Homo sapiens: one gene and its partners. The protein of the gene in region 2 interacts with the protein of the main gene of each other region in a pairwise test. Each region holds a gene or a part of one and is shown on either strand. Other genes may lie near its edges.

The links. The genes of interacting proteins can lie anywhere in the genome.
Region 1: the proteins of RASA1 (region 2) and CAPNS1 interact in binary tests that used the Homo sapiens proteins (3 or more experiments, as listed by UniProt).
Region 3: the proteins of RASA1 (region 2) and PDGFRB interact in binary tests that used the Homo sapiens proteins (3 or more experiments, as listed by UniProt).
Region 4: the proteins of RASA1 (region 2) and SERPINA4 interact in a two-hybrid assay, tested with the Homo sapiens proteins (one large-scale study listed by BioGRID and IntAct).

The regions. Positions count from the first base shown.
Region 1 is NC_000019.10:36,146,566-36,150,065, reverse strand, and holds part of CAPNS1 (calpain small subunit 1), read right to left. Parts: intron 489-3,500; coding exon 430-488; coding exon of another isoform or gene 254-429; coding exon 227-253; 3' UTR 1-226. UniProt on the Homo sapiens protein: Regulatory subunit of the calcium-regulated non-lysosomal thiol-protease which catalyzes limited proteolysis of substrates involved in cytoskeletal remodeling and signal transduction. Essential for embryonic development.
Region 2 is NC_000005.10:87,270,883-87,274,382, reverse strand, and holds part of RASA1 (ras GTPase-activating protein 1), read right to left. Parts: intron 1-3,500. UniProt on the Homo sapiens protein: Inhibitory regulator of the Ras-cyclic AMP pathway. Stimulates the GTPase of normal but not oncogenic Ras p21; this stimulation may be further increased in the presence of NCK1.
Region 3 is NC_000005.10:150,149,346-150,152,845, forward strand, and holds part of PDGFRB (platelet-derived growth factor receptor beta isoform 1 precursor), read right to left. Parts: exon of another isoform or gene 2,994-3,500; intron 1-2,993. UniProt on the Homo sapiens protein: Tyrosine-protein kinase that acts as a cell-surface receptor for homodimeric PDGFB and PDGFD and for heterodimers formed by PDGFA and PDGFB, and plays an essential role in the regulation of embryonic development, cell proliferation, survival, differentiation, chemotaxis and migration.
Region 4 is NC_000014.9:94,560,124-94,564,241, reverse strand, and holds the start of SERPINA4 (kallistatin isoform 2 precursor), read right to left. Parts: upstream 2,801-4,118; 5' UTR 2,748-2,800; exon of another isoform or gene 2,527-2,747; coding exon of another isoform or gene 2,433-2,526; intron 777-2,432; coding exon of another isoform or gene 760-776; coding exon 111-759; intron 1-110. UniProt on the Homo sapiens protein: Inhibits human amidolytic and kininogenase activities of tissue kallikrein.

The DNA.
Region 1 (3,500 bases), on a different chromosome or scaffold from region 2:
GTGGACAGAGCTTGTTAGAGTGTCCTAGAGCCAGGGGGAACTCCAGGCAGGGCAAATTGGGCCCTGGATGTTGAGAAGCTGGGTAACAAGTACTGAGAGAACAAAAGCTTGTGGGTCAGCAGGCCCCACAAAGATGTGACTGCAGACAGGATCGGCCCTGGGAGAGACCGAGGCTCCAGGTGACTCCTATAGCAAGGCAGTGAGGGGGCGGGTCTGGGGCTCCAGTTCAGGAATACATAGTCAGCTGCAGCCACTGGGGAGAGGAGGGTGGAGAGTGAGGACAGGGAACCCCAAGAGCACCAGCCCCTTTGCCCTCACCCAGGGACGGCTGGCAAAATAGGAGGAAGGGGACTGCAGCTCAGAGCTGGTATGAAGGGCTGAGGGGTGGGGTCCTCCCAGGCACCCATACCCCAATATGGGGGTCCTTACCTCCTGGATGTTCACCTGGATTTGTCCAGTGCCATCTTTGTCAAGAGATTTGAAGGCACCTGGAGGAGGAGATGCAGAGGTTTGGCGGCAGGGAAGGAAGGAGACTGGTTTTTGGCATAATAACATTACACAAATACATGGGATGACAATCATAGCAGCTGGCACTTCACTGAGTATTTACTGTGTGCCAAGCATGGGGTAAAGTGCTTTCCAGGTATTGGCTGATTTAATCCAACTCTGTGAGATAAGTGTCATTTTAAAATGAGGCACAGGCTGGGCGTGGTGGCTCACACCTATAATCCCAACACTTTGGAAGGCCAAGATGGGAGGATCACTTGAGCCGCCCAGGAGTTCGAGACCAACCTGGGCAACAGAGACCTCATCTCTGCTTTTTAAAAAAACTAAAAATTAAAAACAGGAAAAAAAGAAATGAGGCAGGAAGGGAGGGGCCATGCCCCAGGTCACATAGCAAGAAAGTGAAGAAATCAGGATTGGAATCCAATCTGTTACCCTCCTCAATAATGGCCTCTGTGTACTGATATCACCTCTGCCCAGCCCCAGCCTCCTACTGACATCTATGCTCCATCCTCTCCAGTTCTAAGCCTAACAGGCTACTAGAGGGAGGCTCTGCACACTCTACTTCCTGCCCCTAGAGTCTTACAGGTAGGTCCCCACGCCTGCCCTGAAACTTGACTCCATGTTCCCCACCCACAGGGAATCTAGACATGATGACTACACTATCTCCGCTCAGTTACCACCACCCTCAGGTGTCCATACCCACAGCGTCCTGCACACCCTGGCTGCCTTTCTTTCTTTTTTTTTTTGAGACAGAGTCCCACTCTGTTGCCCAGGCTGGAGTGCAGTGGCACGATCTTGGCTCACTGCAACCTTTGCCTCCCAGGTTCAAGTGATTCTCCTGCCTCAGCCTCCTGAGTAGCTGGGACTACAGGCGTGCACCACCACGCCTGGCTAATTTTTTTGTATTTTTAGTAGAGACGGGGTTTCACTATGTTGGCCAGGCTGGTCTCAAACTCCTGACATCAGGTGATCCGCCCACCTCGGCCTCCCAAAGTGCTGGGATTACAGGAGTGAGCCACCATGCCCAGCCCTTTTTTTTTTTTTTTTAGACGGTGTCTCTGTGGCCCAGGCTGGAGTCCAGTGGCAAGATCATAGCTCACTGCAGCCTCACCCTCCCGGGCTCAAGTGATTCTCCTACCTCAGCCTCCCGAGCAACTGAGACCACAGGCATGTGCCACCATGCCCGGCTATGTCTATATACATATATTTTTTTTTTTTTGTAGAGATGGAGTCCTACTACATTGCCCAGGCTGGTCTCAAACTCCTGGACTCAAATGATCCTCCCGACTATCAGCCTTCTTGCTGGTAGATCCAGTGGCTATTTCCTGGCCCCTCTTATGTGACTTGTGGCATCAACCTTGTCTGTCCACTCCCTTCACCTCCCTGCTATCTCACATACCTGCTTCTTTTCCTCTGTTACTTTTCATGCATTGTGGGCTCTCTGGAGGCCAAGGGATCTTTTTTTCTTTTTTTTTTTTTGAGATGGAATCTCGCTCTTGTCACCCAGGTTGGAGGCTGGAGTGCAATGGCATGACCTCTGCTCACTGCAACCTCCGCTTCCTGGGTTCAAGCAATTCTCCCTCCCTAAACCTCCTGAGTAGCTGGGACTACAGACACGCCCCCACGCCTGGCTAACTTTTGTATCGTTAGTAGATGCGGGGTTTCGCCATGTTGGCCAGGCTGGTCTTGAACTCCTGACCTCAGGTTTTACGCCCACCTCAGCCTCCCAGAGTGCTGGGATTACAGGCATAAGCCACTGCACCCGGCCTGGAGGCCAAGGGATTTTTTTTTTTTAAGACGGAGTCTCGATCTGTCACCCAGGCTGGAGTGCAGTGGCAGATCTCAGCTCACTGCAAGCTCCGCCTCCTGGGTTCATGCCATTCTCCCGCCTCAGCCTCCCAAGTAGCTGGGACTACAGGCGCCCGCCACCACACCTGGCTAATTTTTTGTATTTTTAGTAGAGATGGGGTTTCACTGTGTTAGCCAGGATGGTCTCGAACTCCTGACCTCGTGATCCGCCCTCCTCGGCCTCCCAAAGTGCTGGGATTACAGGCGTGAGCCACCGTGCCCAGCCGAGGCCAAGGGATCTTTCTAAAGCCAAACCTGACCCTGTCCTCCCTCTGCCTAGAACCTGCCATGGCTCCCCAATGTCTCTGGTAGAGTTTGAGCACCCCCAAACTTGGCACCCACAATCCTGCATGACCTAATCATGCTCACTGCTCCTACCTTCTCTTACTTAGCTCAGATCTCAGATAGATCCAAGTTCAAATTCTGGCTTTACAACTTCCTAGCTGGGTGACTATGAGCATGAAAATTTGCCTCCTTGAATCCTAAGTTCCTCCTTCACAAAATAAGGACAGTAATCCCCACTTCCCAGCCATGTCTTCAGCATTCAGTACACTAACACTCAGAAGGCCACATGCAATGGCTCATGCCTGTAACACCAAAGCTTTGGGAGGCTGAGGTAGGAGGATTGCTGGAGCCCAGGAGTTCAAGACCAGCCTGGGCAACATAGCAAGACCCTGTCTCTACAAAAAATTTTAAAAATTAGCCAGGCATGGCGGTGTGTGCCTGTACTCCCAGGTATTCGGTAAGCTGAGGCAGGAGGACTGCTGGAGCCTAGGAGTTGAGGCTGCAGTCAGCCATGATCATGCCACTGCACTCCAGCCTGGGCAACAAGAGCAGCAGACTCTGTCTCAAAAAAATAGAAAGAAAGAAATCTAACAAAAAGCATCAGAAGCCCCATCTTCTTTCCCTTCTAGGCCTTTGCACAGGCTGTTCCCTCAGCCTGCAACAGTATTCCCTACCTTCTCACTAAGTTCTCTCCTCATCCCCTCAGGTCTCAATGTTCCCTCTCCAGTGAGCCCTCCCTGACCCCTTGGGCTGCATCAGGTTCCTCCTGGATTGGATTTGCCCTCTAGGCTTCCCCAAGCACAATCTGAGCACGCTCTGCTCACTCTTCCCCTCACCAGAGCCCTAGACCCTCGGCCTGT
Region 2 (3,500 bases):
TGTTCTAACATTAACCTTCACCAATTATTTGACTTAATAAGAATGATTTTATTTTTGTAGAGACAGTAAAATGATTTTTTTAAAAAAGAAAGGTACTATTTACATTCCTTATTTTCTTTTCCTTAAAGTTTCAGACTTGAGAAGTCTGAATATTAGGTTCAGCATAAGATCCAGGCCAGATGCCAGGCAAATACTGCAATAGCAAAGGCAAAGCAGACCTGGTGGAGACTGCAAATGGAGACCTCAGTACCCACCTAAAAGGGTCAACCGCTACTCAGCTCTGGCAATCTAGTCTCAAGCAGGAATGGCCACCAGGTATAGCCAAGTCCTGTGGGTTTTCTAGAGATGCTAGAAGTTGAGACTTCTTAAATATGAAATCTTCCTATTGGCCGCGAGGTGGCTCACGCCTGTAATCCCAGCACTTTGGGAGGCCAAGGCAGGCGGATCACCTGAGGTTAGGAGTTCGAGACCAGCCTGGCCAACAGAGTGAAACCCCGTCTCTACTAAAAATACAAAAATTAGCCAGGCATGGTGGTGTGTACCTGTAACCCCGGCTACTGGGGAGGCAGAGGCAGGAGAATCACCTGAATCCGGGAGGCGGAGGTTGCAGTGAGCCAAGATCACACTACTGCACACCACCCTGGGTAACAGAGCAAGACTCCATCTCAAAAAAAAAAAAAAAGAAAAAGAAAAAGAAAAGAAATCTCTATTCTTAAATGGTGACAATTATCAAATATTCCAAATACTCTAAGGGCAAGCAGTATATATCTGTGGGTTGGATTCTCACCAATGGCCACTTGCTACTGCAGACTCACAGTTAAAAATCTCTACATATAACTGATGGTGCACTACACAAACAATATACCTTTACCACCACTGCCCCTCACCCTGCAGAAGAAAAAAAATGAGAACCATGAAAAGAAACTCCAAAAAATTATGGAGTACTAGTGACAAACTTCTTTAATTTAACCTTTTCTCTCTCGAAAAAGAAATCTGTTAACAGTTTTAGATATAGAAACTTTTATAGTAGAGAAATAGAGAGGAAGAATTTTTTTTATTTTTATAATTTTCTCAAAACTTTCAAAAATATTCAAATAAATAGTACAAATTACATAAACATTTCCAGCCTCAACCAAACTAATGAAAATGCTCAGTAATAAAAATGAGACTAATGATTCACCACGTACACAGAAAAACAAGGTACAAAATACTAATTAATAGTGTTAATTTATTTGCACTGGTGTATCTACATATTGTCATTTGACTCTTTTGTGATCAATAGCACAAAACTGGGAACAAAGTTGAACTAACTTCCTGACCATGGAACACTCGAGTAACAAGCCACTTGTGGACTCAATCCTGTGACCTAAACCCCCTTAATACCATGCTATCCATAACTAAGGGGACCAGTTACTCATAGTCAGTATTTAGTCCAACATTTCTTCAATACTTTTACAAAAGATAAATATTATTTGAAAATGTCTTTAAGGCTTTTCCTTCCACTTAAAAATATGAATATCTACATTCAGGAATAGGAATTTATAGAGAACACTTGAATTTCACCTCTAAAATTGCTTAACCTACTGCTAGAAGCCCTTATAAAGTTAAAATAAAATTCTTAATATAATTAATCGTGGTAGGCTTGATTTGGAGTTCAAAACATTCTGTAAAATAGTCATTTAACAAGGGAGATTCTCTAACCAAAAGAATTAGTAGACAATTTAGTGCTAGTAAAATATTACAGTTATGGGCACAGGGGACTACGTATTTATCGAACACTTACTATGCCCAAGTACTGTGACGAATACATCAAGGTATTCATTAAATCTTAAAAAAAAAAAAACAATCATATGAGGAAGGTACCATTCCTATCCCCATTTTACGGATGGGGAAACTGACCTTTCCAAGAATACCCAGCTAGTAAGTGGCAGAGTCAGGATTCCAACCCAAATCTTGTCTAACTTCAGAATCTGCACGCTTAACCACTACACTGCATTGCCTCCAGTGACTCTGGGTTGATAACTAAGATGAAATAAGAAGGAAATTTGTACTTCTCAGTGGCAAATTTTAAAAACATATTATAAATGGAGGGTATTTTTTAGAACATGAACAAGTTTCATATACATAGTCATACAATTTTTATTTCCAAATACATGTAGTAATGGTGAAAATCCCACACAATGAATTTCTCACAATTTTTCATAAGTACTCAATCATGGTGTTTTTTTTTTTTTTAGACAGGGTTTCGTTCTTGCTGCCCAGGCTAGAGTGCAACGGCAGATCTCGGCTCACTGCAACCGCCCCCTCCCTGGTTCAAGCAATTCTGCCTCAACCTCCAGAGTAGCTGGGATTACAGGCGCCCGCCAACACGACCGGCTGATTTTTTTTTTTTAGTAGAGACGGGGTTTCACCGTGTTGGCCAAGCTAGTCTCGAACTCTGACCTCAAGTGATCCACTCGCCTTGGCCTCCCAAATTGCTGGGATTAGAGGCGTGAAGCACCACCCCCAGCCCAATCGTGTTTATTACTAAAAATTTAATGGGAACACCCTGTATTTTCCCCTCAATTTTGCTGAGAACCTAAAACTACTCTAAAAAACAGTCTATTGGGCCAGGCGCGGTGGCTCACACCTGTAATCCCAGCACTTCGGGAGGCAAGTGGATCACCTGAGGTCAGAGTTCGAGACCAGCCTGGCCAACATGGCAAAACCCTGTCTCTACTAAAAATATGAAAATTAGCCAGGCCTGGTTGCGGGCACCTGTAATCCTAGGTACTCAGGAGGCTGAGGCAGGAGAATCGCTTGAACCTGAAGGCGGGGAGGGGCGGGGCGGAGCTTGCAGTGAGCCGAAAACACGCCACTTCACTCCAGCCTGGGCGAAACAGCGAAACTCCATCTCTCAAAAAAAAAAAAAAAAAAAAAAAAAAAAAAAAGAAGTCTACTAAAAACAGTTTTTTTTAACTACAATATCCTAAATATACCTAATTTAGTTATAAACTAGCATAAGACTAGATTCTTTCAGTATGAAAAGTTGCATTGTTTTTCATAACCATTGTACCAAGCATGCTATTAGCATTTAATAAAAATTGAACTATTTTTTTCAAAAGCAGTGCTGTAATATTGTTTTTTTGTTTGTTTGTTTGTTTTGAGACGGGGTTAAGCTCTTATTGCCCAGGCTGGAGTGCAATGGCAGGATCTCGGCTCACTGCAACCTTCGCCTCCCGGGTTCAAGCGATTCTCCTGCCTCAGCCTCCTAAGAAGCTGGGATTACAGGCACCCGCCACCACGCCAGGCTAATTTCGTATTTTTAGTAGAGACGGGGTTTCTCCATCTCGGTCAGGCTGGTCTCAAACTCCGGACTTCAGGTGATCCACCCGCCTCGGCCTCCCGAAGTGCTGGGATTACAGGCGTGAGCCACCGCGCCCAGCAAAATTGGAATTAACACTCCCAGAATACTCCCAGGGACTCTGCATTACAAAGACATTAAAATATGAACCAAACTC
Region 3 (3,500 bases), about 63 Mb from region 2:
TGTTAAAAATTATTAACAATTTCAAAATGATGACTGCAGAGCATTAAACCAAACATAGGCCCTTCTAAGCATGGGGCCCTCAGGAGGATGAGTACTCATGAAGCCATCTCTGTGCCCTGGACTAAAGGGGAGGCCATCTGTCTGTCTCCATCGATTTATCCATCCATCCATCCATCCATCCACCCACCCACCAATCCATTTATGCATCTCTACATGCATTTATTTATCTAGTGATTATTTCACTATCCATTCAGCAGATAGGCCCTGGGTTGGACACTGATAAGGACACAAATACAGGTGAGATGGGAGCCACCCACAGTCCACCAGGTCAAACCTGCACCTTTACCTTCAATGCTCTGGGCCAGGAGGGGCCAGGGCTTCTGTGACATGTTTAGAAAGCTGAGCCCTACCCCTCTAAGGCTAACTGGAAACCCTGCCCCACCCTATAACCACTGAGGCTCAGCCTCAGAAGTGAAGAAGCTGGTGGTGTCACTGCCCTTGGGTTTCCACTTCTCAGAAGGGAAGGTAACAGAGCAGCAGCAATGAGGATGTGGCAAAACAGTCACAAGAAGCATGGTAGGAACTCTCAGGGGCTAAGGGCAGAGCTGGATGGACCTCTGGGGGCCACTAAACTTCTCCCTTGGCTTCTCCCCACTTTATTATAAGAGGAAACTATGATTAGAATGAAGAAGTGGTATGGCCAAAAGCTCGGGGGTCCAGCAAACCACCCAGGAAGATTCCCATTTCTTGTTGGGACGGCTTTGCTCCTTTTCAGCCCATAGCCCAGACAGACCTGGAGGCTGAGCCCTGAACCACAGAGGTGGAGCTGGGTCTCTCCAGGCCTTCAGAGAGATGGTAAAGACCCAGCACCTGTGGTGGAACAAAGGCGAGCCCAGGTCCCAGGCTCAGCGTCATCACCAATGATCTGTACGGACCTTAGGTGCAACCCTTCCCCTCTCTGGACCTTAGTTCCCATCCATACAATAAAGCAGTTGGATCAGGTGACCCCCAAAAGTCCTTTTCATCTCTGACATTCAGGAACTTTCAGACCCCCTGACCCTCCCAAGGGACAGCCCTCTCCATCACAGGGCGGAGAAGCTGGTACCTCTGGCAGATAAAAGGTTTCAGGCACCTGAGACATCAAATAGCCCTGATCTGAATTGAGGAGAGGAGGGGATTTTAATGCGGTTAAAGCAGTACACTTTGATTTTCAGCCTCCTGCACCAGGCTGGGGGTGGGCTACCCCAGGAAGCATCTGGTGGATGTAGGGGGCGGGGGCAGGGTGGGCTCTGGGGCTAAGGCTTGGAGGTTCAGGAAGACTTTATCCTGAGGATCTGGGCCTGAGGGCTCAGGAGGGATGTGAAGTGGGCTTCCACACTGGAAGCAACAAGCATGGGAATTTCACACCCACTCCCACCAGAGGTAGGTCCCTGTGTCCATTCCCCCCCTCACCTCTGGATCCCATCACTCATCTGGGCCAAAGCCTTGCTTCCTCTTGAAATTAGAGCATATGAGGTTTGAAAACGCAGCACTGGAAGAGACCTAAAGGGTTACAGCATCCACACACAGCCCCTAGTGGGCCTTCCTCCCCGACCCTCCCTGCTCAGTATCTCAGGAAAATGGGCATGTGGGAACTGTAGGAGCCCTCTGAGCTCCTCAAGAAACTGAGCACGTTAAGGGGCCACACTAATTGTCAGAAAGTTCCTCATTGTTATTGCAGGTTAAAGTTTTCCATTAGTGGTCATCGATCCTGACCTCTTTCTGTAATGTGTAGAAAAAGGGTAAGAAAAAAACCCTTTCATTGTGAAATTAAATATGCATGATCCCTGAGTACACAGCAAGGCTTGTGCAGCTGCCAATCTGGGCTGGCATGGCTTGGAATCCTGAAATTGTTTTAGGGCTGGAAGAAAGATTTACCATCATCTGGGTCAACCTCCTCGTTTGACTGATGGGAAAACTGAGGCCCCAGAAGGGAACGATCTGTGCACAGTCCCATAGGGTTCTAGGGTCTGATGACTACCTCTGGAATGCTGAGGGCCCCCACAGCTGAGGCACATTCTCAGGGTTTACACTGGATCCCCAGGGGCATCCCAGGCCCCATCCAGCCTCTCATCAAGGGGATCTGGAGTCAGAAACACCCAGGTGCAAATCCCAGCTCCGCCACTTCCGAGCTGTGGGACTTTAGGCAACTGACTCTGCGCACTTTCTCACCTGTAAAATGGGGAGAGTTTAGCTGGGTGCGGTGGCTCACGCCTGTAATCCCAGCACTTTGGGAGTCTGAGGCAGGCGGATCACTTGAGGTCAGGTAGTTCGAGACCAGCCTGGCCAACACGGTGAAACCCCATCTGTACTAAAAATATAAAAATTAGCTGGGCATGGTGGCGCACACGCCTGTAATCCCAGCTACTTGGGAGGCTGAGGCAGGAGAATCACTTGAGCTTGGGAAGCGGAGGTTGCGGTGAGCCAAGATCATACCATTGCACTCCAGCCTGGGCAACAGAGTGAGACTCCATCTCAAAAAAAAAAAAAAAAAAAAGTGGGGAGAGTTTATATATCTAATTTTGAGGTTGCTGTGACGGTTTATTTATTTATTTATTTATTTTTTTTGAGACAGTCTTGCCCTGTCGCTTAGGCTCACTGCAATCTCCGCCTCCTGGATTCAAGCAATTCTAGTGCCTCAGCCTCCTGAGTAGCTGGGATACAGGTGCGCACCACCACGTCTGGCTAATTTTTGTATTTTTAGTAGAGACAGGGTTTCACCATGTTGGCCAGGCTGGTCTCAAACTCCAGACCTCGGGTGATCCACCCGCCTCGGCCTCCCAAAGTGCTGGGATTACATGTGTGAGCCACCGTGCCCAGCCTCGATGGTTAAATTAATCCAGTAAATATTTACTAAGAATGTCCTGAATGCCCAGCATGTTCCAAGTGCTGAGGAATACAGCAGCAACTTTGAGGTAACAGATGTAAAGCACAATTGAAGTAGACACAGAAAGTGCTAAGAACGAGTTGGTTCCTGTTATATCATCATGCTCACACTGCTTCCCAGCTGAGGTGCTACAAGCCCTGACCCTGGGAAGGGGCCCAACACCCCTTCCCTTCCCTCCTAACGCTCTGGGTCAGAAGACAGGGGGCACCAAAAAGATTCCCATTCCAAGAACCCACTGCCCACTGGGTTCTGAATCAAATGCAAGAAATGGGTGGGCATTTCAGAAGACCTTTTCATCCCTTTCTCCCTTCCCACTGCATTCAGCAGCAGCCTGTTCTGAGCCAATGCCCAGAGCACCCTCCTTTAGCCTAGAAGGCAGCTGGTCTCAGAGTCAGACTGTGGCCTGTGCCTGGAGGATGGACACGGATCTTTGGAACATACATGGTGTCCAGGTCCCTTCTGTGGGCAGAGCCTTTTGCAGGTTGCAGATTAATTTCACAGCCAAGTGTTCCAATGCAGGAGGCCAGGAGAGCAGTGGTTCTCTCAGCCAGTGGCCAGAGGTCCAGCTGTGAAG
Region 4 (4,118 bases), on a different chromosome or scaffold from region 2:
ACACAACGTTTTTACTTACATTTTTGTAAAAATATATTTAACCAGTCAACAAATTAGTGGGTTGGAGGCGGTGGTGTGGATTTAGCATATACCAATGATCTGACTCTCACCTTTGAAGTAAATGTAATTCACCAGCACCATCAAGACGTCCTTCTTGAGCTCACTGACCAAATCCACAATCTTCCCTCGAGTTTCCTTCTTGACGTGGTCGTTGATAAGCTGGATTGTGCCCACAGTGTCGTAGAAGTTGGTGTGGAAGAGTTTAGCCTCATAGACGGCCATGGTGTCATTCAGGAATTTTGCAAGGAACTTCAGGTTGTGGCTCAGGAACAGAGCACTGCCCACGCGTGTTTCCAGCCCATGGCCGGGGAGGTTGAGAGTGTGCAGGAGGTGCTGGAAGCCCCTATGGACATCGGACTCAGACAGCTCGGTGAGGTTGAAGCCCAGGCCCTCAAGGATCTGGCTGCGGCTGTGTGAGCAGGCCCCCAGGGAAAGCATGGCGTAGGCCGCCGAGATGCTCAGCGGGGAGAAAAAGATGTTCTTCCCCGGGGTCTCCGAAGCGATCAGGTAGTAGAAGCGGAAGGCAAAGTCAGCATTGGCAGGGGCTATCTTGAGGCTGGGGGAGCCCTCACCTGTCTCCAGAATCTGCTGGTGGGAGCTGTTACTGCAACTCTCACCATCATGCTCAACGTGCAGCTGGCCATGAGAAAGGGCCAGTAGTCCAACCAGCAGGAGGAGCAGGTAGTCGATAAGATGCATCCTCTGCACTCTCAGGCCTATGGGAGGGAAGAGAATGCCCAGGAAATTCCCCCAGAAGAACACCTGGCCCTACTGAGAAGGCTGGCAGTGGGCCAGCACCCGGAGATCGTGAGTGACACCCTCAACTCCTGCAGATGGGCTTGTGAAAGGCAATGTAACACCCACCACCTTCCACATGTATGGTGACAGCAACACTATTGGATGGCAATGTTTTAGACTTACAAGGCACACTCCTTGTGTCCATCATGTCATTGTGTTTCCCACCTGTGTGAGCTCTGCACAGCACTAGACTCCATTCTCACCCAACAGAGCAGGAAATGAAGACTCCCAAAGTGACTCACCCAAGTCACCTACCTAGCACATATCCCAGCCAGAACCCACATCCCCAGACTCAGGTGCTGCTTCTCCCACACTTGTCTTTCAGATGAGTTGATTTCATTAGTGCAGTGATTTTGCATGGAGGATGGCTATCCTCAGAGTTTATTTTAGGGTCTGTTCCACAAACATCTGTGGAGTGCTTTATATGGTTTACAAACCACTTTCAGCCATTTAGTTTGACCCTCCCACCCCTGTAGAGGTCAGTAGAACTGGTCTTTGTATTGTTACCCCGTACAGACAAGGACATGGATGTTTAATAAGTGACCTGCCCAAAGTTGTGGGGATAGAATTGGTACCCGTTTCATAATGAACATCTGTCCAAGAAAGGATACTCCAGTTTCTCCCCCAAATCTGCTCCTGCCCCATCAAATGGTCCCACCAGTATCCGGTTGTCAGGCCAAAAAGCTTCTAGGCTTCTATCCACCCAAAATCCATTTAATCCACTTCCATGACCTGCAGGGTTGGGTTTTTTTTGTTTGTTTGGTTGTTTGTTTGTTTGTTTGAGACAGGGTCTCACTCTGTCACCCAAGCTGGAGTGCAGTGGTGTAATCATGGCTCACTGCAGCCTTGACTTCCTGAGCTCAGGTGATCCTCCCACTTCACCCTTCCAAGTAGCTGGAACTACAGGCATGCACCCTTCCAAGTAGCTGGAACTACAGGCATGCACAGCCACACCCAGCTAATTTTTTATAGAGTTGGGGTCTCACCATGCTGCCCAAGCTGGTCTCCAACTCCTAGACTCTCCTGTAGGTTCTTCAGCCTCTCGCCCCCTCTTTTGCTATGATCCTCAACCAGGGCTCAGAAAACTTTTTCTGCAAAGCGCCAGATAGTAATATCTGTGGTTTTGCAGACCACACAGTCTCTGCTGCCACTACCCAACTCTGCTGTGGCAGCTGGAAACAGCCACAGACCGGACATGCATGAAGAGGCGTGGCTGTGTTTCAGTGAAACTTCACTTACGGACACTGAAATGTGAATTTCATATTATTTTCCTGTGTCACAAAATGTTGTTCTTCTATTGATTTTTCATAGCTTTATATATTTATCTTTTATACTTATCACTTATATTTTATATTTATATTTTACATCTTGCATTCTTAGCTCATGGGCGGTGGGCCGGATTTGACCTACAAGCTGTGGTTTGTTGACCCCTGACCTAGACCCTTGCAGAAAGCTTCCTAGTCTTTCTGCTCTCTGTTCTCCACTCAGCAGTTGGAGGGATCATTTAGAAACATACATAGGACCGCATCACTCACAGACACACCTCCCCTCCGGCATGAGCTCCCCAAGATCACCTGGATTGGCAGCCAGAAGACCTTGGCCCTCAGTCAGTGCCGCCCTGTACCAGCTGTGTGTCCCTGGGGGAGGCTTTTCTGGGTCTCCGGGCATAGTCACCCACCAGTGCCCATGGACCCTAAGTCGGGGCCTTTCTAGCCTGAGTATTTCTCACCTCTAGCAAGAGTGACAAAGTGTCCCAGCTTGCCTGGGACTTTCCTGGTTTTAGCACTGAAAATATATCCCAGAAGAATTATCAGTCTTGGGCAAAGTGGAACAGTTGGTCACCCTCCCTCTAGAGTCTCTCGTCTCCATTGTCTCAGGGGGTTACTCACGGCACAGTCTGTCCTGGAGTGGACCCCCTGGGTGGCTGTCTCAGCTCTGTCTTATCAAGCCCAGGAGGACTGGTCAAACCAGGCCTTCTCAGTACCACCCACTCTCTCCCGACCAGGTAATTATTAACAAACAGGCTACGGGTGCAGCATTGCCTCAACAAGGAAAACTCACCAGAAGTTGGTTCACCCCCTCCCAAGAAGACACCCCACTTCCCACCTGGGGAACCCCAAGAGGGTTCACTTCTTCATGTTTGTGCAGTGCATGGAGGTTCGCCTGGCCCTTGCTGCTCCCCGAGGGCCCGGGGAACCACTTGGAAAATCTGGTCTCCAACCAGCCCCTCACTAGCTGTGTGAAGTTGAGCTCATTTACTCCCTCTCTGAGCTTCAGTCGCCCACCTCCCTCCTACAACATGAGGGGCTGGATCAGACAGGGGGCAGCAAGCTCCAGCGCCGCCTTCCTAGATCAGGTAAGGAAGACTCCATGGTGCCACGGTGGGGAATGGTGGGGATGTGTGGAAGTGAGAGAGCCAGCTCTCTACAGGCCAGGCAAGACCCACCTGTGGGCAGGGCCTCACAGCAGGGCCTCCAGTTTGCAATCCTGGACTCTGTGATTTCTGAGGATAGAGTCCACTGAGATCTCATAGGTCAGACCATAAGGAGAGTACATCCCAGGGCAAGGGTGGCATGGGGTGGGACCAGGAACCTCCTTGGGCCAGGTATTCAATTTGCATTTTTCTTCTTTAACCATGGAATTGAACTTGTTCTCTCCCCAGTAATCAGTGAACCCCTGCACCCTTGCACCCTTGCACCCTCCTGGGGCAGCCATTTCTCAAGCTATGTGGGGAAGGACTGCAGGGAGCAATGTGGCCCTGGGTGCCCTGACTGAGATGACCTTGACCATTCAGGCATCCTCTAGCAGACTTTCTGGATGTGTTTCCAAGTCGTTGGGCCTTAAGGTAAGTGAAATATACACCACTGAGCAGCACAGTGGGCTGGGAGCCCTGAGCGATGTAGACATGGGGATGGCAGAGCAGGCACAAGCACAGCCCTGGAGCCAGCTGGCCTGAGGTCCAAAATGGGTCAACACCAGGACAAGAGAGGAAGCTAGCAGGTCAGGCAAAGTGAGAGCTACTGTCTCAGTGGATTCTCGCTTTCCCTCACTCATCTCTCTCTTTCCCTTGCCTATACACTCTAGGTATACTAAGCTTGGCCCATTTTACACATGAGAAAATGTAAGCCCGGAGACATTGTTAGCTCAGATTCCAGAGTCAGGGTCTGCTCCGTGGCCACTGAACATGAAGCCCATATTCCTTCCCAGCATCTGCTGCTTCTCCACTTGGACAGACTTTTCCTGCCACCGGAATAGCAGCT